Homo sapiens: one gene and its partners. The protein of the gene in region 2 purifies or fractionates together with the protein of the main gene of each other region. This does not show direct contact. Each region holds a gene or a part of one and is shown on either strand. Other genes may lie near its edges.

Evidence for each region. The genes of interacting proteins can lie anywhere in the genome.
Region 1: the proteins of ZNF311 (region 2) and NKTR purify together in Homo sapiens (affinity purification with mass spectrometry; 2 studies listed by BioGRID and IntAct, with this or other methods). This does not show direct contact.
Region 3: the proteins of ZNF311 (region 2) and GPALPP1 purify together in Homo sapiens (affinity purification with mass spectrometry; 2 studies listed by BioGRID and IntAct, with this or other methods). This does not show direct contact.

The regions. Positions count from the first base shown.
Region 1 is NC_000003.12:42,631,155-42,639,437, reverse strand, and holds part of NKTR (NK-tumor recognition protein), read right to left. Parts: intron 8,268-8,283; coding exon 8,122-8,267; intron 6,838-8,121; coding exon 6,615-6,837; intron 5,878-6,614; coding exon of another isoform or gene 5,859-5,877; coding exon 5,703-5,858; exon of another isoform or gene 5,702-5,702; intron 4,826-5,701; coding exon 4,738-4,825; intron 4,218-4,737; coding exon 4,072-4,217; intron 2,571-4,071; coding exon 1-2,570. UniProt on the Homo sapiens protein: PPIase that catalyzes the cis-trans isomerization of proline imidic peptide bonds in oligopeptides and may therefore assist protein folding. Component of a putative tumor-recognition complex involved in the function of NK cells.
Region 2 is NC_000006.12:29,001,386-29,009,552, forward strand, and holds the start of ZNF311 (zinc finger protein 311), read right to left. Parts: upstream 3,931-8,167; 5' UTR 3,623-3,930; exon of another isoform or gene 3,155-3,622; intron 3,050-3,154; exon of another isoform or gene 2,830-3,049; 5' UTR 2,570-2,829; coding exon 2,561-2,569; coding exon of another isoform or gene 2,486-2,560; exon of another isoform or gene 2,476-2,485; intron 2,210-2,475; coding exon 2,128-2,209; intron 1-2,127. UniProt on the Homo sapiens protein: May be involved in transcriptional regulation.
Region 3 is NC_000013.11:44,999,007-45,007,289, reverse strand, and holds part of GPALPP1 (GPALPP motifs-containing protein 1), read right to left. Parts: intron 5,141-8,283; exon of another isoform or gene 4,843-5,140; intron 2,986-4,842; coding exon 2,853-2,985; intron 1,089-2,852; coding exon 987-1,088; intron 1-986.

The DNA.
Region 1 (8,283 bases), on a different chromosome or scaffold from region 2:
CACTGGATGTGGCAGCATTAGGTGCTGCCAGGTTCCCCACACCTTGCAGGGGCTTCCATTTCTTATCAATGAGGTTGATCTGGCTCTTCTCAGCCACCTCCTTCTTCCCGGTACTTTCTCCAGCACTAGCCAAGCTAGCAGAGCTGCTGTCCTGTTTCCCCACTTCACCCAACACTTTACTTTCGGACATGCTGCTTTCCTGTTTTACTACCTCTGCTTGAGGATGTTCCGTTGCCATATCCTGCTTCAAAACAATGTTTATATCTGGGGTATCAAGCCGTGCATTTCCTAGAGGGGAAGTCTCCTCTACTTTTGCTGGGGAACTCCTATCAGGAGTGCAGATCTCCATGTTGTCATCTGTTTGAAGCACATCTTCCACTCCATTGGGAACACTTTCTTCAACGTGCTGAATGTTTTGTAAACAGGCCACATTTTCCTCAGTATTTAAAGCTGTGGGAGAAATACTGAGTTTACTATCATCTTTAGTAAACTGATCAAGATCTGATGAAACAGTCACTGTATCATGTTTACCTGAAAGGTCCTCTTCACTGGATTTCTCAGTTTTTAGAATATTATCTTTTATGGTTTCATTGTTTTCAGAAACTTTTTTCTCTTTTGATTCCTGAGTAACTTGCTTGTCATCAATCTCCTCCTCCTCCTCTTCACCAAATTCTAGTGGAGGCTGCCAGTGAAATGCTTGCTTTCGTTTTGGAGCCTTATGCTTTTTGTCTTTTTTCCCTTTCAATTTCTCTTTCACTTTTTTGGTGTGTTCTCTTTTAAGATTTTCCTTTGACCCATGTTTGTGCTTTTGTGGCTTTCCCCTATTGTTTTCCGAATTGGAACAGGACCCCTCAGAGTCAGAAGTTGATGTGCGCTGTTTGCTTGATTTCCAAGCACCATTATCATCAGGCAGTGAAGTATTTGTGGACGACTTGGTTGTGGGTTTGACTTTGATGTGAATTTCACTAACCTCTGATTCAGAATCGGATGTGGCCTCACCTTCTTCCTTGTCAGAGGATGGATGGGAGTCATTTTTACTGTTTTTAGTGACATCTCGTTCTGAATTTGACTCAGAGTCCCATTTACTACCAGCATAATTCTTCCTTTTGGGCTTACTGCCATTTCTAAGGTGATCAGAAAGATTCTCTTTCAAAGTTCTTTTTTTTGAATGAGGGCATTCCCGTTCAGACTTGGATTTTTCTTCACCTCTGTTTTTTTCTTGTTTATTATGTGTTCTTTCCATTTGGCCCTGCTTCTCTTTTTCCTGGGCTGACTGTGTGGCCTGAACACTTGACTGCTCACTGTCTGAAGAATAATCTAAAGATGATCTGCTCTCGCTATACTTTCTCACACATGAAGACCTGTCTCTACCTTTGACATATTTACTGTGAAGTGTCTTTTCAGAGCTGCTGCTATGCTTTTTATGTGAAACGCTATTTTTTTTCCCACTGGATCTAAGTCTCCTCTTAGCTCGCCTTCCATCATCACTGCTAATAGAAGTATATGAAGATGATCTACTACACTGTGAATGATCACTGTATTTATTTCGTGAATGAGATCTAGATGATGGAGACCTAGACCTTGAATGTGAACTAGCTAGACTACGTGATCTTGTATATGATCTGGAATAAGATCTACTCCTAGAAGATCTGCTCCTTGACCTTGGTGAGCTTTCTGAACTTCTATCACTGTATTTTGAATAAGTGCTCTGATCACTTTCCGAATTTTTTTCTCTTTTATGGTAGGATGATGAGCTACCAGTCTCTTTAATATTTGCTAAACTGTAAGTGCTTTGGATGGGTAGCAAATGGGTTGTTTTAGCTTTCATTTCCTGAATTCGCTCATAAGAGGGCTTCCAAGGTTTCTGTCCAGGCTTCCATCTTGAAGGGGGGGGACTGTCACTCAGTGGTATTACAGGAATATTTTCTGCTACAACTGGTTGTACTACTACATTTTCATTTTGTGCCATGGTTGCTCTTAAAGGTTCTGTTTTAACTGGTTTATTTTCACTTAACTGAGAAGCTGTTTTTCTTGGTGATTTTGATGCTCTCTTTCGGTGCCCAGACTTGGAACTAGATCTGGACTTTGATCTACTTCGAGAATGTGATGAGGACTTTGACGCAGTCCTTGATCTTGAGCTTCCTCTAGAATAAGACTGTGAGTGAGATTTTGATCTGTATGAGTCTCTGCTGGAATGGGTTAAAGAGCTCTGGACATCCTTATCAGATTTAGACCAGTCTCTCTTTGATGAGTGATGAGATGACAATGAGGAAGAACGAGAACTCCTTTCTCTATCACAAGAGGATTTCATTCTTCGAGTGGAAGATTTTGAGGATTCTATGTCAGACGGTATAAGAATCCTTCTCTTCTTTGTTTGTTTGTGTCTTCTGCAGTGTTTCTGCTTTTTCCCTTTCTTTTTATGCTTAACCTTTTTTTCTTTTCTGCGTTTTTTATGGTGGCCAGAGTGTCTTGCTGTACTAAGGTCTGAATAATATCCATTATAGGACCATGATCTGGATCTCTGAGACAAGCTTCTTTCATCCCATCGGCTTGAACAGGGGTCACTTAACCTATAGAAAGGACATAATATTCATGCGGTGATTTATAAGCATGTTTTCTACACCTTAAGACACAGCTTTGTTAACAACAAAGTTCTTGACCCCATTAACACTTTAAGCACACGCAGGAAGCGTGAATCAGAGTTATAGGCCTGGTCTTGTTATACTTTCAGAGACACACACTAAGAACTACTAACAAATTCACTTACAAAAGGATTTTTTTTTTAAGCTAAGCAAAGAACCTTACATTTGTTAGGAAAATGTTTTTGAAAAGCAAACCAACTAATCACAAGAACACTGCTGAACTCAAATCACAAGAGTTCCTGGCTGTTATCTGCTCACAACCCTCTGCCTCTAGGACAGTTTTTGAGGGTGAGTCAAACCAAGGTCTCAAACAATTTGTTGATTTTCTGAAGATGCAGGATAGCTGCTTGAAACTAGCATGAAGCTTGTTTTTTCTCCACCTCAGACAGGTAATCCAGATTTCCCCTAAGACTGTAAACTACTTAAAACAGAAATTGAGGAAAAAGTACACAAAAACAGATACAGGTTACAATCTGAGTGTTAATGTCAAGGCTCAGAACTGAAAGTCCTCAGCACCACTGTGTCTGAGCCGCTTCTACACAGCAGATGCATTCCTTTTCCTCCTTTTCACAATTCCAAACCACTCTGCAGGATGTCCCCAGAGAAAAAGAGAATACTACCATGGAAGATTACACAGGGTCCCATTAGTATATTTTTCACTAGCTATTCTGGGGCCTATCCCCTTCCTAAAATAAATATTCAACTGTGGGACATCACTGAAGGTAAGAGATGTGTACACTTCTAAAAAAGCAAGTCTCTGCGATCAACAGTCAACATGAACACCGAGTGCAGGTTTTCCTATTTACCAATGAACTCATCAGTGACCTGGCTGGCTAGGAAAGAATCTGCTATATAATTTCTAAGTCCTAATTATTTTTTTTTTTTTTTGAGACGGAGTCTCGCTCTGTCACCCAGGCTGGAGTGCAGTGGCACGATCTCAGCTCACTGCAAGCTCCACCTCCCGGGTTCACACCATTCTCCTGCCTCAGCCTCTCTAAGTAGCTGGGACTACAGGCACCCGCCACCACGCCCGGCTAATTTTTTGTATTTTTAGTAGAGATGGGGTTTCACTGTGGTCCCAATCTCCTGACCTCGTGATCCGCCTGCCTCGGCCTCCCAAAGTGCTGGGATGACAAGCGTGAGCCACCACGCCCGGCCTCTAAGTCCTAATTATTTCTAAAATTGACTAAGAGGTCATTAAAAGACACAGGCTTATAGTTTTTGTTAAGGAAAACAGGATTTTGATTTAAAAGCCCAACTAGTTAACAGTACTACTTTCATCAAGTAGTCCCAAATGTATTTCCTTTGGTCACAGTCTGACTGTGAATCTTTCACTGAATCTTTAATGAAAAGTCCAGAATTGTATCCAATCCCTTTAACATTTAAAATATAACAGACACAGGATTGTGCTTATACTCAAAGTTCTTACTTATCTCCTTTACTCCATTTTTCTCCACTAGGTGGTCTATATGCTCTTAATCTCTGCATTTCCTCTTTCCAGTGAGGAGGAGTTTCACTGCTGTCATCATCATCTGACTCAGAACAGGATCTTGATCTTGGAGGTGTGTGATAGCGCTTTAAAAACAAAAACAATAGTATTTTAAAAAATGCCTCTCCACGACAGTCTGCTATGTGACAGAGTTAAGTAAAAGACCCAATCTCAGATCATCCCATCAAAGGTAATGATTGAAGTTACCAAAAGGATGGTCTAAAGTTCTTTTTTTTTTTTTTTTTTTTTAGTTTTTAACTTTTATTTTAGGTTCAGGTGAAGTTATTTCAAACAAGGCATTAAAAGAGATGGGCAAGGCTGAGATTCACCTGTAATCCACATAAAATTTTCCTTTTTAAAGTCTTAATGATTTCTCAGCATACTCACTGATGGTTTCACATGTTCCTCCTTTCATACTCAATTAAACCCATTCAAACACAGCAGTATACTTTGATCTAACAGCAATACCTTCCCATAACCATGGAAAATACAATTAGTTCCTTGAACAGATTTTGTATTATATCTAAAATTAACGCTAGGACTTTGAAAATAGGTAAAAATTTTTTATTAGATACATAATATCAAAAAAAGTCTTATCACACATACAATTGTGCCCCTTCCTTTAATCTTCCGTCCAGACTTTGATACAGATGGTTTCTGATCACTTACAATGGGTGCAACATCAGGAATCTTCCTAGGAAAAGAAGATTGTGATGAAAATTAAAAATAAGCAAAGAAGCTAGAATTTTTAATAATGAAAACACATTATGTTAAGCTATTAATTCAAAGATACATGCCATTTTGCAATAGCTTTTTAAAACAAGACAATATCAGGCTTTAAAAAATATTTAATGAACTAAATGATAACTTTATGCAGAGAGCTAATTATAAATAAGGACTCTTATACTTTTCAGCTTTCAAAATAACTCTTCATAGGGAACTTATCAATGACACCAGCCATTATGATATTTCTGTTCATGAAACATTTTCTTTCAATAATTCTAAACTTGAGTCTAACACACAAAATACATTAAATACTATTTTCTCAGACCAAATCTAAAGCGACACATTCACTTTTCCAATGCAGGAAGTAATTGTTGAACAAGTTAACAAAAGTAACTTATTTATGATACTAAATTGTATCTCCAATCATCATGCAATTAATTATGCACTATTCAAATTGGAACCCATGCTTCATCACTCAAATGGATCCAAAGAATTCAACTAACTCTCTATTCTGATAACTAAAACCTCACCCCTCTAATAAAAGGCAAAGGCAAGAAGATCAGGAATAAAATCTTTCCAGATCCCCAATAAGGGCTTCCCTGACCAACTTGCCCAACCTCCTCTCCCTGCTAGAATGTGAATTCTGAAAGGTAGGGTACATATCACTCAATAATCTGGTATCCCCCATATTTCCTACGTATCATTCATTAATCTAATACTCCCATACTATCTTTCAATGTGCTTCAAACATGGATCATGTTCCATACATGAGTGTGGAATGCAATGAGCTGACGGAACAGTGTTATCGGAGAAATAAAAATAAATAGTTTAGTCATCCTACTTACGGTTCAGGTTCTGCAGTAACAACAGGCATATCTCTTCTCAGTAAAAATCGGTTCTCAGGCACTGGAGGAATCTCTTCTGGGCGGACCACAGGTTTTTCCCTTTTAGCACTGGAATCAACTGACCTTTTTTCATTGGTATCACTCCTCTCAGAGTGACTTAGAACAAACCAAGTCACTGATTAAAATGTATAATGTTTGCATTTCATAATAAAAGCACATAAAATTAGTTACTAAAACAACAGCATAATTAACGATAGCTTACAAGTCTCACTCAAAAGAGTTATATGATTTTCACAAAGAGAACAATATCAACCCAGTGAAAAACCCAAAGACTAGAATTTTGATAGGAAAATTGTTAAATGATCCTAACTTTTTTATTTTAAGAGTTCCAGGAGGCCAGGCATTGTGGCTCACACCTGTAATCCCAGTACTTTAGGGGTCTTAGGTGGGAGGATTGCTTGAGGACAGGAGTCAGAGACCAGCCTGGTCAACATAGCGGAAGACCCTGTCTCTACAAAAAATTTAAAAATTAGCCAAGCATAGTGGTATACGCCCGTAGTCCTAGCTACTCAGGAGGCTGATGCAGAAAGATCTCTTGAGCCCAGGAGGTGGAGGATGCAGTGAGCTATAATTGTGCCACTGTATTCCAGCCTGGATAACAGAGCAAGACCCTATCTCTTAAAAAAAGAGTTCTTAGGACTATTTTCACCCGAAAACTGAAAACACACAAATCTTTGAAATGAAATGCCTATGCTACCTACTCCTAGATTTGCCAGATTTCAATTTAAAGTTTAAAAAGTGCTATCCTTTTTCAATAACAGGTAATAAAATTGAGTTTATAGAATTATACATACTTTTCCCATTCCAGAGTGTTTGTTTTTAGGTAAGAGTACATTGGTGTTTTACACGTACCCTTTTGGGTTCATTGCATGTTTATTCCTTGGCTCTTCTGAACTGCTTGCTTCCTTTCGCCTCTTTTTAGAACGTTTAACTTTTGGCCTCCTCTTATGTTTCCTCCTTCTGCTTCTCTCATGTTCAAGTTCACTTTCTGAAGATGATTCTGAAGAAGAGGAGGAATTGGAAGAGGAATCCGAGCCTTCTGAATGAGTTGGTTTCTTCCTTTTTTTCTCAAAAACTTTTAAGAAACATTAATAAAAACATTAGTACTAAATTCAGTGCCTACCTTTCAGAGTAAAAAATGTGATTACTGAATATCATAAAATATGCTTTACATACAGCAAACAAAAAATGAAATGTAGACAGTTTTTTTCAAGTTTATAATAAAATTACTGGCAAGATTGTAAGGTAGTAAGTCCCTTGTCTTTATGAAGCCTATATTCTTGTTGGGTCAAGTAACAAGAAATAGGCCCGGTGCAGTGACTCATATCTGTAATCCTAACACTGTGGGAGGCCAAGGTGAGCAAATCACTTGAGGTCAGGAGTACAAGACCAGCCTGGCCAACATGGTGAAACCATGTCTCTACTAAAAATAACAAAAATTAGCCAGGCATGGTGGTGCATCCCTATAATCCCAGCTACTCCAGAGGCTGAGGCAGGAGAATCACCTGAACCCAGGAGGCAGAGGTTGCAGTGAGCCGAGATAGTGCCACTGCACTCCAGCCTGGGTGACAGAGCAAGACTCTTGTCTCAAAAAAAAAAAAAAAAAAAAAAAAAGAATTGCATAATATGACAAATGATTAAGTGCTAAGACAGAAAAACAAAGCAGTGTAAAGGGAATAGGAAGACTAGGGGTAGTTTAACATAACATTTGAACAGAGACTTAAGAGCAAGGGACAGTGTCATGCAGATATCTTAACAAAGGGTGTTCCAGACAAAGAGAATAGGCAGCACAAAATCCCTGAGTGGTTGGCATGTCTGAAAAAAGGTCAATGTGCCTGGAAGGCAATGAATAAGGGAAAAGAGTTTAGAGAGACAGCAGAGAGCCAGACCAGCCAGGGCCTTAGAGACCACCATAAAGACTTCTGCTTTGGATGATTGAAGATGGGAGTCCTTGGAGGGTTCTGTGCAGGCGTGACATGAATGCAAACTATGGTTCAAAGGGATCACTCTGGTTGCTGTTAAGGACAGACCACAGCGGGCCTAGGATATAAGCAATGAGACCAGTTAGGAGGCTATTGCTGCTGACAAAAGATTATAGAACGGAGGCAAGGTAAACAGTTACGACGCTACGGCAATAATCCAGACACAAAATACTGGTGGTGTGGATAAGGCTGGTGGCAAGGAAATAAGAAAAAGTAAGATCTGACAAGATATGCTAAAAGATTAAACATGTAGGGTATGATTCAGGGGCACCAAGGGCTATTGCTATACCACTAGTTCCACTAATCAAATCTAGTTACAGTCTTCAGCAATGCTTTACCTGCATCTTAGCTTCATCTACTGTCAAAAAAGTTCTTACCATCTTTTATTGATTTTGTGGCAAGTACTCCACAGTCAATAACTCGCACATCTGCATATGGTCTGCTTGCAGCATCGGTCTTCAGATTTTCAATTTGTTCGATTACTTCAAAACCAGAAATAACCAGTCCAAAGACTACATGCACCCTGTCATAATACAAAT
Region 2 (8,167 bases):
TAGTTTCAGCTACTTATAGCTTTTGACCAAGACCAAGGCTGCATCTCAGTCATGGTGGTTCCATACAGTTTTTCCACTGTCTCACTCTAAAAGCTCCGAGCTCCTTTATAACTGTCTCAAAAAGTCTAAACTCATCTGGATGGCACACAACTCACAGCAGACACATGTTTGTGCCTTGTTAATGTTACATAACAGTTCTTTTCCTTATAACATTAACACACTTAAAGCTCTCAATTGGATGTTTTCAACCATTATTTTATTATGAATATTTTCAAGTATATAGAAAAGTTGAAAAAATTATATAGTAAATATCCATATACCAATCACTTACATTCCACAATTTACGTTCTGCAATATTTGCTTTATCACATACTTATCCATTTATCTATTCCTCTCTCTGTTCATTAATGTATTTTATTTTTTGAATCATTTCAAAGTAAGTTGAAAGCATCAGTACACCTCACCCCTAAACAGTTTAACATGTATATCATTAACTGGAAGTTCAACATTTGTTTACCTTCTTTTTCGAGGTAAAATTTACATATAATGAAATGCACATGTCTTAAATGTACCCTTAGAGAAACTTTGACAAAAGCATACCCCTATGTAACTCATTCCCTACTGGTTTTTACCATATCTTCTTCACAACTGGGAAAGTCTGTCACTCATAGTGATTCATAAGCTTTATTTTTTAGCTTTAGCTTTAGAAATTGAAAGGTTATTCCTCTTAAGTTAAAAATGAATTTAGGAAACAGGCTACATGAAAAAACAACATAAAACTTTTTGTTAAAGCAGTATACAGATATCTTGTGGGATAAGATTAATACATTTGTATTGTATTATATGATAGGTGGCTACAGAATTTCTGACCCTGAAAATCCACCACAGCAGATTTCACGACCATTTGAGAAAAAGAAGACTGGGAGACTCGTGCATCCGAGTTTAGCAATAGCTATTATTTTTTATTTCTAAATCTATAAAAAATTTATGTTCTATATTATTAATTCTCATTTGTGATCCCTTGTACAGCAGATATCTCAGGATTCCTCCTCTAGATGTTTCAACACTATATCTAGAAACACATTTTATTTTTATTTTTTGCAGGTAGCATATACTAAAAAGCTTACTTTTGAATGTGCCTACTCCTCTGTCCAAAAGTCTATGCCTTTCTGGGTTTGATTTTATGACTCCTGAATTGCTATATACTATCTCCTAGGTTGCACCTCCAACAGCAATTTTTTTTTTTTTTTTTTTAGACAGAGTCTCACTCTGTTGCCCAGGCTGGAGTGCAGTGGCATGATCTCAGCTCACTGCAACCTCCACCTCCTGGGTTCAAGCAATTCTTCTGCCTCAGCCTCCTGAGTAACTGGGGTTACAGGTGCATTACACCACACCTGGCTAATTTTTGTATTTTTAGTAGAGATGGGGTTTCACCATATTGGCCAGGCTGGTCATGAACTCCTGACCTCTAGTGATCCACCCACTTAGGCCTCCCAAAGTGCTAGGATTACAGGCATAAGTCACCGCACCCGGCCTACCATCAGCTTTTATACAAATCTTAACCACTTTTCCTCCTCACATACGCCACCAAAGAGCACAAGGCTTCAATGGGAAAACTTTTGCTTCTTCTTTTGTCACTGCTTTATTTTATATTTTGGAGATATCTATACATCATTTAAAAGTATCAGGGCTCCAGAAAGGTCTGCAGAAGTAAAATTGTATATATTCAAATTTTACATGTTGGCAAAATTATGTTTGGGTAGGAATTACTGAATTATACCACAAGTTTTATAAGTGTAAAATATGTGCAAATATGTACGCTATTTACCATATATCTCAGGTTATACAAACAGTAAATGCCTGACTGCATTGATTCTTTCTGATAAATTGCTTTGTAGAATCTTTTACACACTGATTTTTTTCAAAATTTAAGATACTGACAGAAACTGAATATTTAGTTCCTCTAGATATTGATCCAAGCCTCGTATAGAAACAAAATAAGACTTTCTATAAATGCTCATTAATGAACAGATTTTTGGGCCCCAGTGTGGCATTTTCCACCCACTCTGTGTCCTTACTACATTCTCAGCTGCCGTGACTCCTGCCACAATCTCCTGTGTATCTCACCGCTTTCCTGAGGGAGCTGGGTATCCTGGCGGGTCCAAAGCAGCTGGCTTGGTGGTCCTGAACTCTCATCCAACAGCACAACCTATTGCAAGACACAGAATGAATTCAGGAAAGTTATGAAGGTGAGAAAAATACATAGGAAGATGCAAGCAACCATACAGGTCTATCCACAGAAACTGTCTCCCAGAAATACCAAAAGAAGGGAGAAAATAATGGACTCAGTTCCTAATACCTTATGAAAACTAGAAATGGCATCTACAACTACAAAGCTTTAATGATCACCAGGTCAAGCAGCAAAAACAGTATCTAGGAGGAGACACCTCCAACAGTATCTAGAGTCAGACACACCTCCACTCACACTGCTTTCCTTCTTTCTTGGACTCACTTCTCCTTCTTCCTCCTTGTGATGTATCACAGACCCTCCTCTTCTTACCTCCTGCATCTTTTTACTCAGGTTTCTTTAACAGTCTTCCACTGCTGTCCTGGTTTCTTCCTACTGGTCAGATCCAGTTCTCAAACAAGCTGTGAAGTGGCTCCAGTTGATGCCAGCCTCCTTTGGAGAACACATGTTTTGGTGGTGCCAGCCAAAGGGCCCTTCTTGACCCACAGTGCCGCTACTGTTTGGCTTAATGTGTCAAACACTGCCCTGGATTTGGGGTTCATTAGCAACACTAAACCGCTGTGATCTCACATCTTGTTTCCCTGCATATTTGGTGAAGGGAAAAGAGGAATGTGACCACAGGAAAAAATAGGGAGTCACTGAGAACCTGAGGCACGAAGTCAAACTGAAAATGTGAACATATCCAGAATACAATCTCAACGGCTACCACCCTTGTCTGAGCCACCATCACCTGCTATCTCCCCTCCTTTCCATTACTGCGGTAGTCTTCTAACTGGTCTCCTTTCTTCAATCCTTGCCTTCCTCCTTTCTTTTTTTTTTTTTTTTTTTTTTTTTTTGAGACGGAGTCTCGCTCTGTGGCCCAGGCGGGAGTGCAGTGGCGCAATCTCGGCTCACTGCAAGCTCCACCTCCTTTCTTAATAGGGCAGTCTGAGTAGTCCGTTTACAACTTGAGTTGGATCATTTCATCGCTCTGCTGAAAACTCTCCAGTGGTTCATACTTAAAATAAAACCTGAAGTCCTTACCGAGGTATACAAGGCCCTACTGAATGTGCCCGTGACTTCTAACTTCCTCTCCTGCTCACCCAAAATAAGAGCTGAAGTCTTAAGAGTGGCATACAAGTCTACAGGATGTGTCATTCTCAACACCTTCTACTCTTCTCCCACTCCCTCAATCTTCAGCCATACCGACCTTCCTTCTCTTTCATCTTAGGGCCTTTCCATTGGCTGCTCCCTTCACCTTAAGCGATCTCCATGGCTAATAATCTTGCCTCCTTCAAGTGTTTTCTTATAGGTCATCTTCCCAAGGAGGTCTACTCTGAGTGCCTTATTTAAAATTGCAGCCTATCCCCTCCTTCCAATCCTGATGGGCCTTACCTTGCTTTACATGAATTCTTCTTTTCCTCTATAGCACTTTATAATTTTCCAGTATGGTGCATAAGTTACTTATTAATATATACATTGTTTACGGTGGTTCTACCTTCGCTAAAATCTAGGCTCTTAGGCTCCATGAGGGCAGGAATTTTTGTCGTCTTGTTCACAGTTGTATTCTCAACGCCTAAAACAGCGCTTGCAATAGTATGTGCTGGATTAAAAATTAGCTGACTGAATGAATATATGAATGGATGCTGTAGAGAAGAATAAAAAGAATGGGTCAGGAGGCGACAAGAGCAAGACTCCGGTCTCAAAAAAAAAAAAAAAAAATGGGTCACGAGCCCCTGGGAGGAGGTAGGGCAAATGGGCGGGAAATGCTCATTTTGGGGAATGGCTTCGAGGGAGGAAACCGCAGCCGACTCCCTCCTCAAATCTGGCCCCAAAGACCCGCCCCTGCCTGCAACCCCAGGGGCCCGGGTATTTAGGTGAGGGGGGCGACGGCGGCACCGGACTCCTCTCCTCTCAGCTGCAAATTCCGACCCACGACGGCCCAAGGCACAGACCTTCCCGCCGGTACTCTCCCCAAGAAATGAGAAACAGAAATATACAGAAGCTCCACTTCCTAGTCCGCCAATTATCATTTCCGGTGATTTTCTAGGAAAGGCGTCAACTCTCTGGTCTAGGCGTTCCCTTAAACTCTCCGCCCTCCTCCTCGCGGCTCAGCCTTCTAGGAGTTTGCGTGCGTTTATGGCCTGTGCAAAGGGGTTGCAGAAATATTACCCTTTTGCTCCTTTTTTCCCATGTAGAGGAACCTCTAGATAGGAATGGACAGAAGTTTTGTGACAAATATATGAAAAAGTTACTTTTAAATATTAACTAAGAACACAAATAATTGAATGTCTTTTTCAAAAGTAAAGACTATTTTAAGCCTATGCAGAAGTCGAAAGAAGAGTATAATTAACCCATATATACCCATCATTTACATTTAAAAATACATAAAATTCTGCCACACTTGTTTCATCCATCTCCATTTTTTCTTGCTGAAACGTTTTAAAGCAAACCCCAAATATCTTACTTTCAACTTCATTATGCATTTATTTTAAAAAGGATATTTTCCTACAGAATCACAATACCATTATCCCATTTAACAAAATAATTCCTGGTTATCATCTAATACCAAGTCCATATTATATTTCCCTAAATATATACATATGCTTCTTACATTTGTTTTCTATTTCATTCAAGATCTAAAGTTCCAGTATTTAATTTGGGCATGTGTCTTAATTCTTTTAAAATTCACATCTGAACTAGTTCCTCCTTCCATCCTCCTCTTCGTCTTCCCCTCATATAGTCAACTAATTGAACAAATTGGGACATTTGTCCTGAATGTTCTACATGCTGGCTTTGTCTATTTGTGTCCCCATTTTATTAGTTTCTCTAGCCTCATATTTCCTGTAAAACTTGATGTTACCTCTAAAGGTTTGATTAGAGTTAGGTTTAACTTTGTTAGTAAGAATCCTTAGGTGGTGCTATGTACTTTTTGCCACACATCAGGAAGCATATAATGTTTTTGATGCTAAGATTGACCAGTGGGTTTAATACTTGATAGCTGAATCCTTCCATGTAAACTTTCCCACTGGCTTTTAATCTGATAGATTCAGCCACCCCATTTCATTAGAGTTTGTAAAATTGTAATTTTTCTAATTCAATAATTTTTTCACATTTATTAGTTAGAACTCCTCTATAAAGAAAAACTTTCCTTCATCAATTTAGCAATTTAGGGCTATTTGGTTATCCTGAAATGTAGTTTGTACAGGAAAGAAAGACTGTTTAATTTTCAACATAATTGCCAATTTTCAGAAAAAGCAGTTGTGCCTTAGGTGCCATCAATGGTAACCACCTTACAAAATGTGATAGCCATCCTATAAAATGGCTAGCTGGGCCCTACTGTCCAGCATTCACATCCTTGTGTAGCCCCCTTCCACATTGTACCAGGGTTGGTTTGTGTGACTGAATGATCTGGTAAAAGTGATGCTATGTTTTGTTTGTTTGTTTGTTTGTTTGTTTTGTTTTTTGAGACAGAGTCTTGCTCTGTTGCCCAGGCTGGAGTGCAGTGGCGCGATCTTGGCTCACTGAAATCGCCACCTCCCGGGTTCAAGTGAGTCTCCTGCCTCGGTTTCCCAAGTAGCTGGGACTATAGGCATGCATCAGCATGCCCAGCTAATTTTTATATTTTAGTAGAGATAGAGTTTCGCCATGTTGGCTGACTGGTCTTAAACTCCTGGCCTCAAGTGATCTGCCCACCTTGGCCTCCCAAAGTGCTGGGATTACAGCCATGAGCCACCGCACCTGGCCGATGCTACATTATCTCTAATATTAGGTTATAAAATAATCTACGGCTTCTGTTTTGGTCTGTTTTTCTTTCGTAGATCACACACCCTTGGGAAAGCCAAATGCCATGTTGTAAGGAGAGGCCCAGGTGGTGAGGAACTGAAGCCTCCTGCCAGCAGACACATGAGTGAGTTTGGAAGTGGATCTTTCTACCTTAGTCAAGCTTTCAGATGACTGCAGCCCTGGTTGATGTCTTGGGTGCAACCTTATGACATACGCAGGACCACCAGCCAAGCTGCTCCCAGATTTCTGGTCTTCAGAAGCTGGGGAATGGCTTTGAGGGAGGAAACTGCAACAGATGTTTGGTTCTAAGTTTTATAACTAATGCAAAATTTTGTTTTCTCTTTTTGTGCATCTAATGTGCACTAATGTAAAATCTTTTTGTGCAACTAATGCAAAATTTTGTTTTCTCTTTTTGTGCACAACATCAAGTGTTCTGCATCAGTTGATAACTAATGCAAAATTTTGTTTTCTCTTTTTGCATATCAATATGAACACATGGATTTAAAAAAATACATTCAATGAGTCTCAATCAATTGCAGTAGTTATTCTTTTTAATGTTCAAATTATTTCATCTTTGGTCAGTGGGAGTCCCTTTATTTTATCTCCTGTGTCCTTTTCATCCAACTCTAAGCGTCTTTGCTTTTTTCCTTTATGGCAAGATAAATGTTTCAGACACATGTCATACATTTCCTGCCTCAGACCTGGAATCAGCCATTTTTCCAAGGTGTTCTGGTGCTTTCAGTGGGGGCAAGGATTGCATACCTTTGTGAATAGTCATGGTTAGCTGTTTTAAAAATGTATCAAAATGAAATAAAATTTGCTTAATTATGAGATTAAATCCTGGCTACCCCACTCACAATGTGTGTGTATCATACCTTAGACCCACCCTAGTTTGTCTATCTGCAAAATGGGTCCAGTGTAAATACCTAAATTTCAGAGCCGTTATAAGGATAAATTAGTTAATACGTGGAAATCACTTAACACATTGCCTGGCATCAAATTTCATGATGAGAATAACTGCAAACCTGGAAGATACTATAATGGTAATGAGGTATACTTTCTTCATTTTATACTTGAGAAAATTGAGGCCCAAGAGATTAAAAACTTGTTTGTACAAAAGAGGATAAAATTAGAAGAGAATCTAATGATTTCAGACTCTTGGATCTCATACCTAGACTACTTTGGATATAAATGCAGCCTTTCCAGCCCAGTCGGGTCTTCTATTTATTCAAAGACAAAGGAGGTAAGAAAATACTTGGCACAGTAGCAATAAAGTGGTATTATGGGAAGTGCAGAAACTTTATATTGAGAAGATCTTGTTCCTGATTCTGCAACTTGTTAGCTATGATACTGTGAGCAAGTTACTTAATTTCTCTGTGTCTTAATTGCTGCATCTGTAAAATAGTGAAAACAAATCCCTTATGCACAAATTCATTGTGAGAGGGTTAATATACATATATTGTATATGAAAATGCCTGGCCATATTGCTTGCTGAATAAAAATCATTATACAAAAATAATTTCTTCAATCCCCCAATTTTATAAAATTTTATTCTCATCTAATGGAAATTGGCATTTTAAGTAGAATGATCCCTAAGGATACTAAGTCTATAATTTTGTAAAGGACTTTAGTGAATACTGTGCAAAGGCACTGTGCAAGGAGCTACAGGAGAGATGCTATGCGTGGTCATCTACCTTCCAGGCTGACTGGGTACAGTCTTTCTTCCCAATATTAATCTACTTAATAGTAATAATGTCCAGTTCACATATTTTTGTGCAATACATTCATGAAAGACTGCTATACCCTTTGCTGTTATAAAGATACTTCCACAGTAGACTGTTAGCATATACTTTAATAATCTAGTTGGATTAAGAGACATTTATTTACATTATTTCCTCTAGGCTAACCACAATCGCTCATAAAACATCTCCTAAAATAATTAATACTGGAATTTTACCAGGGATCCATGTCAAATTTTTCACCCTGTTAATTCCACAGTTCACCTTCTTACTTTTTGAAAATTTGGATATTTGTCAGACTTGGGCATTTGTTGCACTACTCAAAAATGGGCTTCAGGGGTCCTGTGGCCAATCCTCCTGAACTTTAGTATGCTTTAAGCTGGGCATGAAAACTTGTAGTTACTGTTTAACTACC
Region 3 (8,283 bases), on a different chromosome or scaffold from region 2:
TAAAATTGGTATACATTTAAGTAATATGTTTTCTTAAAAGGAATGTTACATCCTAGGGGTCAGCAAACTTTCTATAAAGGGCTAGATAGTAACTCTTAGGCTTTGAGAGCCACATGTGGGTCTCTGTGGCATATCTGTCTTTGTTTTTTCAGCTACTCTCAAAAATGCAAAAATCATTTTTAGTTTGGGGACTGTAGATTGCCTATCCCTGTATATCTGAAACAACTAAAGTTAATGGAAGTTAGGAGCTGCCAAATGTGATTATAAACTTTGAATATAAAATAAAAAGCCTTTTCTGCTTGTTCTTGCATATTGGTATACAGTATTATGAATTATAAACAATTTGATGTGCGATCTTATATTTGGCATTTAAAAATTTTACAATTCTGGGAAGAAGACAGGAATAAATATTTACTATATACTTACTCTGTGCCAGGCTCCATATAAATTAAACACCCACACACAAAGTCAAGGTATGTAACTATGAAACCTCAATCATCACAATTCTGTAAAGTACATGCTGTTATCCTAGCTTACAGATAACAAATTTAAGATTCAGAGAAGTTAGTCCAATTGTCTAACATGGCACATGGGGATGTGTTTCTTCTATTGATAAATAATTAAGAAAACAACTGAATTAAAAGTCACAACATCAAGATTCTAGCTCCAGGTCTGCTACTATGTGTGTGACCTTATCTGTTTATAAAGTGGGGAGAGGGGTGATCCACCTCGTTTACCACAAAACACTTTTGTGAATATCAAATAACAGATGTGGAAGTTTTTTGTAAACTATGAAAGTGTCATAAACATGTAAATAATTATTTTTATTGTAGGAAACAACTTCTTTTCCTGGTGAATGACCCATTTCAAAATGTTATATAAATATTTCAGTTAAAACATAATTTCAGACAATTCTTTAATTCATTAAAGATTCATTAGTTAAAATATTTAAAGAAAGACTGGCCTAAAATATTACACATTATCACCTTGGAGGAGAATCATCCTGCTTTTTAAATCCAGGAGGAAGGGCTGGTCCAAAAAACCCATCATCATCATCATCGTCATCATCCTGATTTTTCCTCTGTTTTCTGAAAACATAGTAGTATAACTTTATGCATATATGTCAAAATTTTTTTCACAAAAGCACATTTTAATTTTTTTTAAAAAAGCATTAAATCTAGTTGTATAAACACTGCAACAATAAATTAATCCTGCCAAATAAAAACTGGATACTACGATAGTTCTTTTTTTTTTTTTATTTTTTGAGAGGAAGTCTTGCCTTGTTGCCCAGGCTGGAGTGCAGTGGCGTGATGTTGGCTCACTGGAACCTCCCACTCCTAGGTTCAAGCAATTCTCCTGCCTCAGCCTCCCAAGTAGCTGGGATTACAGGGAAGCGCCACCACGCCCAGCTAATTTTTGTATTTTTTAGTAGAGACGGGGTTTCACCATGTTGGCCAGGCTGGTCTCGAACTCCTGACCTCAAGTGATCTCCCCACCTTGGCCTTCCAAAGTGCTGGGATTACAGGCGTGAGCCACTGCACCTGGCCTACGACAATAGTTCGTAACTAGTCTTTTCCTGGAATTTATTTTTGGCCTAAAATACAGATTGGTTATTTCTTTACAGCAGTAATATATCACTATTCTATATTTTCTGTGGTATTAAAGATTCCCCTCAATGCAGTTTCAAAGTCTATTGGTCAGATGTTTCTCAGTAAAAAGTTTATGACTGTGACTTTTATTCTCATCTAAGGAAGGGTTTTAAGTTGCTATTTCCACCTGATAATATTTAAAATGAATCAAAAAAGCTTGTTACTCAATAATAAACAAAGATTTGACTTCTCATTTACATAGACTCATAGTGGGTAAGGCCAGATTAGAGGAAAATCATTCAGCTGGGCACAGTGGCTCATGCCTGTAATCCCAGCACCTTAAAAGGCCGAGGCGGGCAGATCACTTGGGGTCAGGAGTTCAAGACCAGCCTGGCCAACATGGTGAAACCCTGTCTCTACTAAAAAATCCAAAAATTAGCCAGGTATGGTGGCACACACCTGTAGTTCCAGCTACTTGGGAGACTGAGACAGGAGAACCACTTGAACTTAGGAGGCAGAGGCTACAGTGAGCTGAGATCGTGCCACCGGATTCCAGTCTGGGCTACAGAGTGAGACTTCATCTCAAAAAAAAAAAAAAAAAAAAAAAAAAAAAAGAAAACCATTAGTTTATTTAAAGAAAACATACACTGCATATATAATTTTAATAAGAAATTCTATGGTTTATGTAGCCTATTTTGGCACTTCAATGACATCTTAAGAAAAATCATTTATGTAAGAATTTTATTGGCTGGTGTGGTGGCTCATGCTTGTAATCCCAGCACTTTCTGAGGCTGAGGCGGGCAGATCACTTGAGTCCAGGAGTTTGAGACCAGCCTGGGCAACATGATGAAACCCCATCTCTACAAAAAATACCAAAAAATCTACAAAAAATACAAAAATTTGCGGGCACCTGTGGTTCCAGCTTCTCAGAAGACTGAGGTGGGAGGATCGCTTGAGCTTGGGAGGCAGAGGCTGCAGTGAGCCAAGATCGTGCCACATCACTCCAGCATGTGCGCCAGAGTGAGCCCCTGTCTCAGGAAAAAATATACATATATATTGAAATTCTAGATATCTCTATAGCTGCAAACTACTAGAATAAATTTCTTTGTAAAAGGTATAATTCAGGATGAAATGCCACACAAAATGATTTCTCCCTGTGCTGTATAAATGGAAATATGATATCCCCTTACTAGCTATCTGTTCCAGCCAACTTATACTAGCTCTGAAGTTTGGTCTATCATTTAATTTAATTAAATGACTGACCTTGCAGTTGGACCACTGTCATCTTCTTCAGATTCTTGATTTCCTTCTTCGTACAAAGAACTACTGTCTTCATCGCTGTCTGATGAATCTGAACTACTGCTTTTATAATTAGGGGGCAGAGCTGGTCCTGCAACTAAAGAACACTTGTTGTTTGTCATCACTAGCCACTACTGTTTCAATGAACCCTTCTAGCTGATATTTTTCACTTTCTTTTCTGAAATAAACAGCACTGGCTGTCTATCATTTATTATTCACTTTAATCTCAATTGCTGTTGTTTGTGTACAGTGGTTTTGTCTTTCCAGCTCTAGGAAGGCAGAAATCATGTCTTACACAATCTCTTTCATGAGATTCACAAAAGCTTTGTTAATATCTGAACTTATAAACCCGAACTTATAGATATAGCAATAGCATGTAATTTCCTTGATAATGTGCAGTTTTTGCATTGGTTGGTGCACCTGCCAAAAAAAACAAAAAAACAAACAAACAAACAAAAAAAAACCCCAATGGCTTCATGATTTTTTTTTTTCTTACAGTTTACGGTAGAACCACTACTTAAAAAAAAAAAATCTTTCCTGGCATCCCCATATTTCTTGGTTAGTTTTCTTTTTGAGATGATTTTCCAAGCAGAAATAAAATTAGAGTCACTCTAAGTTTTACTGCTTGCCAACAGAGATACAGGGAAGAGAATGAGGCTGCACTGTAATGGGGATGTTAGGGAGAGTGGTAAGGGTCTTCTAGGTCCACTTATCAGAATGACTTGCTCTCACTTTACATCTCAGCAAAATTACAAATTACTATATGGTGTCACTGCAGTGTCATGATGTCACTGATGATGTCACACAGACACAACTGTCCAGGTTGATCCTAAATAGTGATGCTAAAAGCCTACTATCATAGTTCCCAAGGTTGGATATTTATCAGACTCCCTAAAATCTATGTATTTTTAAAAGATTCATGGGCCCTTTTCTCAGATATTCTAACCCAGTTGGCCTGGAGGAGGGCCTGGAAACATGATTTTCCAAAGAGTATTCTGGGTATGCCATTCATTCAATATTATAGTAATAGTAATATTTGTTACTACAAAAACTTAAGTGTAATAAATAAATAACAAATAACATGGTTTGAGTTCTTAGGTGTTATGAATTGTTTTAAGAGACATACACATTATTCTATTTAATTCTGATAACAATCCTATAAGGGAGATATTATTTCTATTTTACATATGGAGAAACTGAGGCCAAGAATTGTTAAGTGACTTGCCTAACTTCATACAACTAAGTAGTGGGGCTGTGACATGAACCCAGGAGTCTGATTTCAAAGCCTATATCCTTAACCACTATACTAGCCAATACTCAATAGTCAGCAACCATCCATCCAACAACAGTTATTAAGTAAATACTTCTAGAGAAACAAACATTAAAAGAATTAAGATCAATTCAGATAGTGTAAATGCTACTATGAAAATAGGAAAAAGGTGACACTGTATATGTGGGAGGGTAATTTTAAAGACAGTGGTAAGGCAAAAATCTCTCTGAGAAAAAGACATTTGAATGGAGACTTAAATGATGAGATGACAGAGGAACAGCCAGTGCACAACTCCTATGCAGGGAGCAAGCCTGATGTGCTTGAGGAATAAAAAGGCCAGTGTGGCTAAAGAAAAGCAAAATGACGACATCAAGTTGGATGGTATAAAGGGGCCAGACTCTTGCTTTGGAGGCAGACTCTGTGCTTTGAATTCCAGGTTGGCCACTTACTAGCTGTGTGATTTGGATAAGTTACTTAACCTTCCTATTACACTCTTGCTTTGTAAAATGAGGTTAATAATAGTTTCAACCTCACAGGACTGTTGTGAAGATTATATCAGTTAATATATGCAAAACACCTAACAAAGTCTTTGGCATATAGCAAGTGCTCAATAAATGCTAGTACAGGCTACAATAAGGAGTTTGGACTTCTCTTTCCCTTTCCCTTTTCTGTTCCCTTTCCCTAAGAGGCGAGATCTCACTGTGTTGTCCAGGTTGAAGTGCAGTGGCTTTTCACAGGTGCGATCCCACTGCTGATCAGCACCAGAGTTTTCACATGCTTTGTTTCCGACCTGGGCTGGTTCACCCCTCCTTAGGGCAATCTGGTGGTCCTTCACTCCCGGAGGTCACCATACTGATGTTGAACTTAGTGTGGATACCAGAATGCATAGCGCACTACAGCCCAGAACTCCTGGACTCAAGCGATCCTCTTGCCTCAGCTTCCTGAGTACCTGGGACTACAGGCATGCACCACCACATCCAGCAGGAGTTTGGATTTTAATTACAACAGGCAGTCATTGGGAGGTTGTGGGTCAGGACAGACATGATATGAATTACCAAACAAACAAACAAAAAACTGTCAGCTTGTGGACAATAGACAAGAGAGATCAGCAACAGGGGATATGCATTAGAAAGCTGATAAAAAATGGTGTGGGCCAGGTGTGGTGGCTCACGCCTGTAATCCCAGCACTTTGGGAGGCCGAGGTGGGCGGATCACCCGAGGTCAGGAGTTCGGGACCAGCCTGGGCAACATGGTGAAACCCTGTCTCTACTAAAAATACAAAATTAGCTGGGCATGGTGGTGTGCGTCTGTAATCCCAGCTACTCAGGAGGCTGAGGCAGGTGAATTGCTTGAATTCTGGCAGTGGAGGTTGCAGTGAGCCAAGATCACGCCATTGCACTCCAGCCTGTGCGACAGAGCAAGACTCCATCTAAAAAAAAGAAAGAAAAAAAAAAGGTTTGATTTGCAACATACTCTGATGTAAGGGCAAAGAGGACTGCTAATGGTTTGGATGTTAGAGGTGAGAAGAAAAAAAAAAGGAACCAAGGATAGGTCTTAGGTTTTGTGCCTGACTAGCTAGGCAGGTGAAGGGCAATGGTATTCTCTAATATGGAGAAGGCTGGGAAGAAAATAGGCTGGGAGGGGAGAGTTGAGAGTTTGTTTTTCACATTTTAAGTTTCATACAGCCTTAAAAATTTAGGTGGTGCTATCAGTGGTACTTGGGCATACTAGGGTGTATAGGGTGTGTAAGTCCGTTCTCATGCTGCTATGAAGAAATACCTGAGACTGAGTAATTTATAAAGGAAAGAGGTTTAATTGAGCCACAGTTCAGCATGGTTGTGGAGGCCTCAGGAAACGTACAATTATGGTGGAAGGGGAAGCAAACACATCCTTCTTCACATGGCAGGAGGAAGGAGAAGTGCAGAGAGAAAGGGGGAGAAGCCCCTTATAAAACTATCAGATCTCATGAGAACTCACTATCACGAGAACAGCATGAGGGTAACCACCACCATGATTCAGTTACCTCCCACCAGGTCCCTCCCACAACATGTAGGGATTATGGAAACTATAATTCAAGATGAGATTTGGGTGGGGACATAGCCAAACATTATTACAGTGTAAAGCTCAGGGGAGAAACTAAGGCTAGTTTTGGAATCATTGGCCTATTTCAAAAAAATTTTTCCTATCTCTCTTGGTGCATTACTATAGAACAGGTAATAACATGCCTTAGAAAAGAATAACTCTAAGGCATGCTGCGTTACAGCAAAAAGGAAAACATCAAGCATCATGGATGGGATTCCTATCTCCAACTGCTGTTTAGGGTTTACTAAAGAAGACTTAATGTCTTAGTATGTAAGTGTTCCCCAATTTATTTATAATTTAGAGACTATATGTGACCTCTAACCTCATGTGTGACCCCACAGGAGTGATTGGCTCTTTTCATCTTCTTGATTCTAAGTACATTAAAGAGGGAAGATATGTTTTTTCCTCTTCTGCTTCTTTCTCTTCTTATATGTGACTGCTATCCATGTAATTTATCAATTGTATACTATTGGCCAATTTTGGATAGGTTTGTATCAAGAAAAAATTTTATTATTCTTTTATATATTTTAAGCAATTAGATGTGTAATATGGTCTAAATATGTGCTGTTCTTGGTATTATAACGTACACACATACCTTTTATTTATGTATTCATTCACTCATTTATTTATTTAGTCTTGCTCTGTTGCCTGGGTTAGAAAGCAGTGATCATGGCTCACTGTAACCTTGAACTCCTGGCCTCAAGCGATCCTCCCATCTCGGCCTCCTGCATGGCTAGGACTACAGGTGTTTGCCACCATGCACAGATAATTTTTAAATTTTATTTTATTTATTTTTTTGAGACCAGGGTCTCACTATGTTGTCCAGCTTGGTCTTGAACGCTTGGCCTCAAGTGATCTTCCTGCCTTGGCCTCCCAAAGCACTGGGATTACAGGCATGAGCCACCACACCTGGTGCTATTACAACTAAAAAATTGCCATGGATTTTTAAAGAAACAAACGAGATATACATTTTTTAAAAAGATAATAAGCAGATGAAGATAAAACTCATCTAAGAAAACCTGGCCTTTTAAAAATAATCACGGAAAAATAGTATAAAAAAGTAACATTCAGCACATAGTACCATTAATTTCTATTTGAGTTGTTCAAAATAAACAACTATTTCATCATGAAATGATAGAATACTGAGATGGCGATATAAAAAAGAAAAAAGGGGCCAGGCGCAGTGGCTCATGCTTGTAATCCCAGAACTTTGGGAGGACAAGGCAGGCGGATCATGAGGTCAAGAGATCAAGACCATCCTGGCCAACATGGTGAAACCCCATCTCTACTAAAAATACCAAAATTAGCTGGGCGTGGTGGCACATGCTTGTAGTCCCAGCTACTCAGGAGGCTGAGGCAGGAGAATCACTTGAACCCGGGAGGCGGAGGTTGCTGTGAGCCAAGATCACGCCACTGCACTCCAGTCTGGTGACAGAGTGAGACTCTGTCTCAAGAAAAAAGAGAAGAATATTAAAAGTGTCAGTCAGTATACGCCACAATACAGACCCCCTAATAAAAGTAAGGACATGTCTGGCTTCACTTTTTTATAGATATCCTTCTGAACTATGAATAATCTCAAAAAATTATTTTGGGAACATGTAATGAACTATTCCATATCTCTCCTAAAGCAGTGATGCTTGTCGTCATTAAGGAGGCTCTCCTATTGCAATGATAATTTTCCAAATAGATTATAAATTCCATGAGAACAGGAGTTACGCGTTCCTTATATTTCACTTATTTCCCTTTCATATCACACAGAATTGTGATATGCATATAAAAAAATGAACTCAGTATAATACATAAAAATCTCATTACAGATCAGCATTAACAGATGAACATCCACAACTGATTCTGATGACTAGGAATGCTAACTTGAACTCCGATGAAATGAAATGTTACTCCCCCAAAACCAATTCTGTTCTTCTCATTAGTAGACCTGTATTACAAAAAAATTATATGGTATTATGTTTTAGATTGCAACAATAAAATTTTGTGAAGTTTGCTTCCTTCTTGTTGTACACATACTTTTACAATAATCTTGAT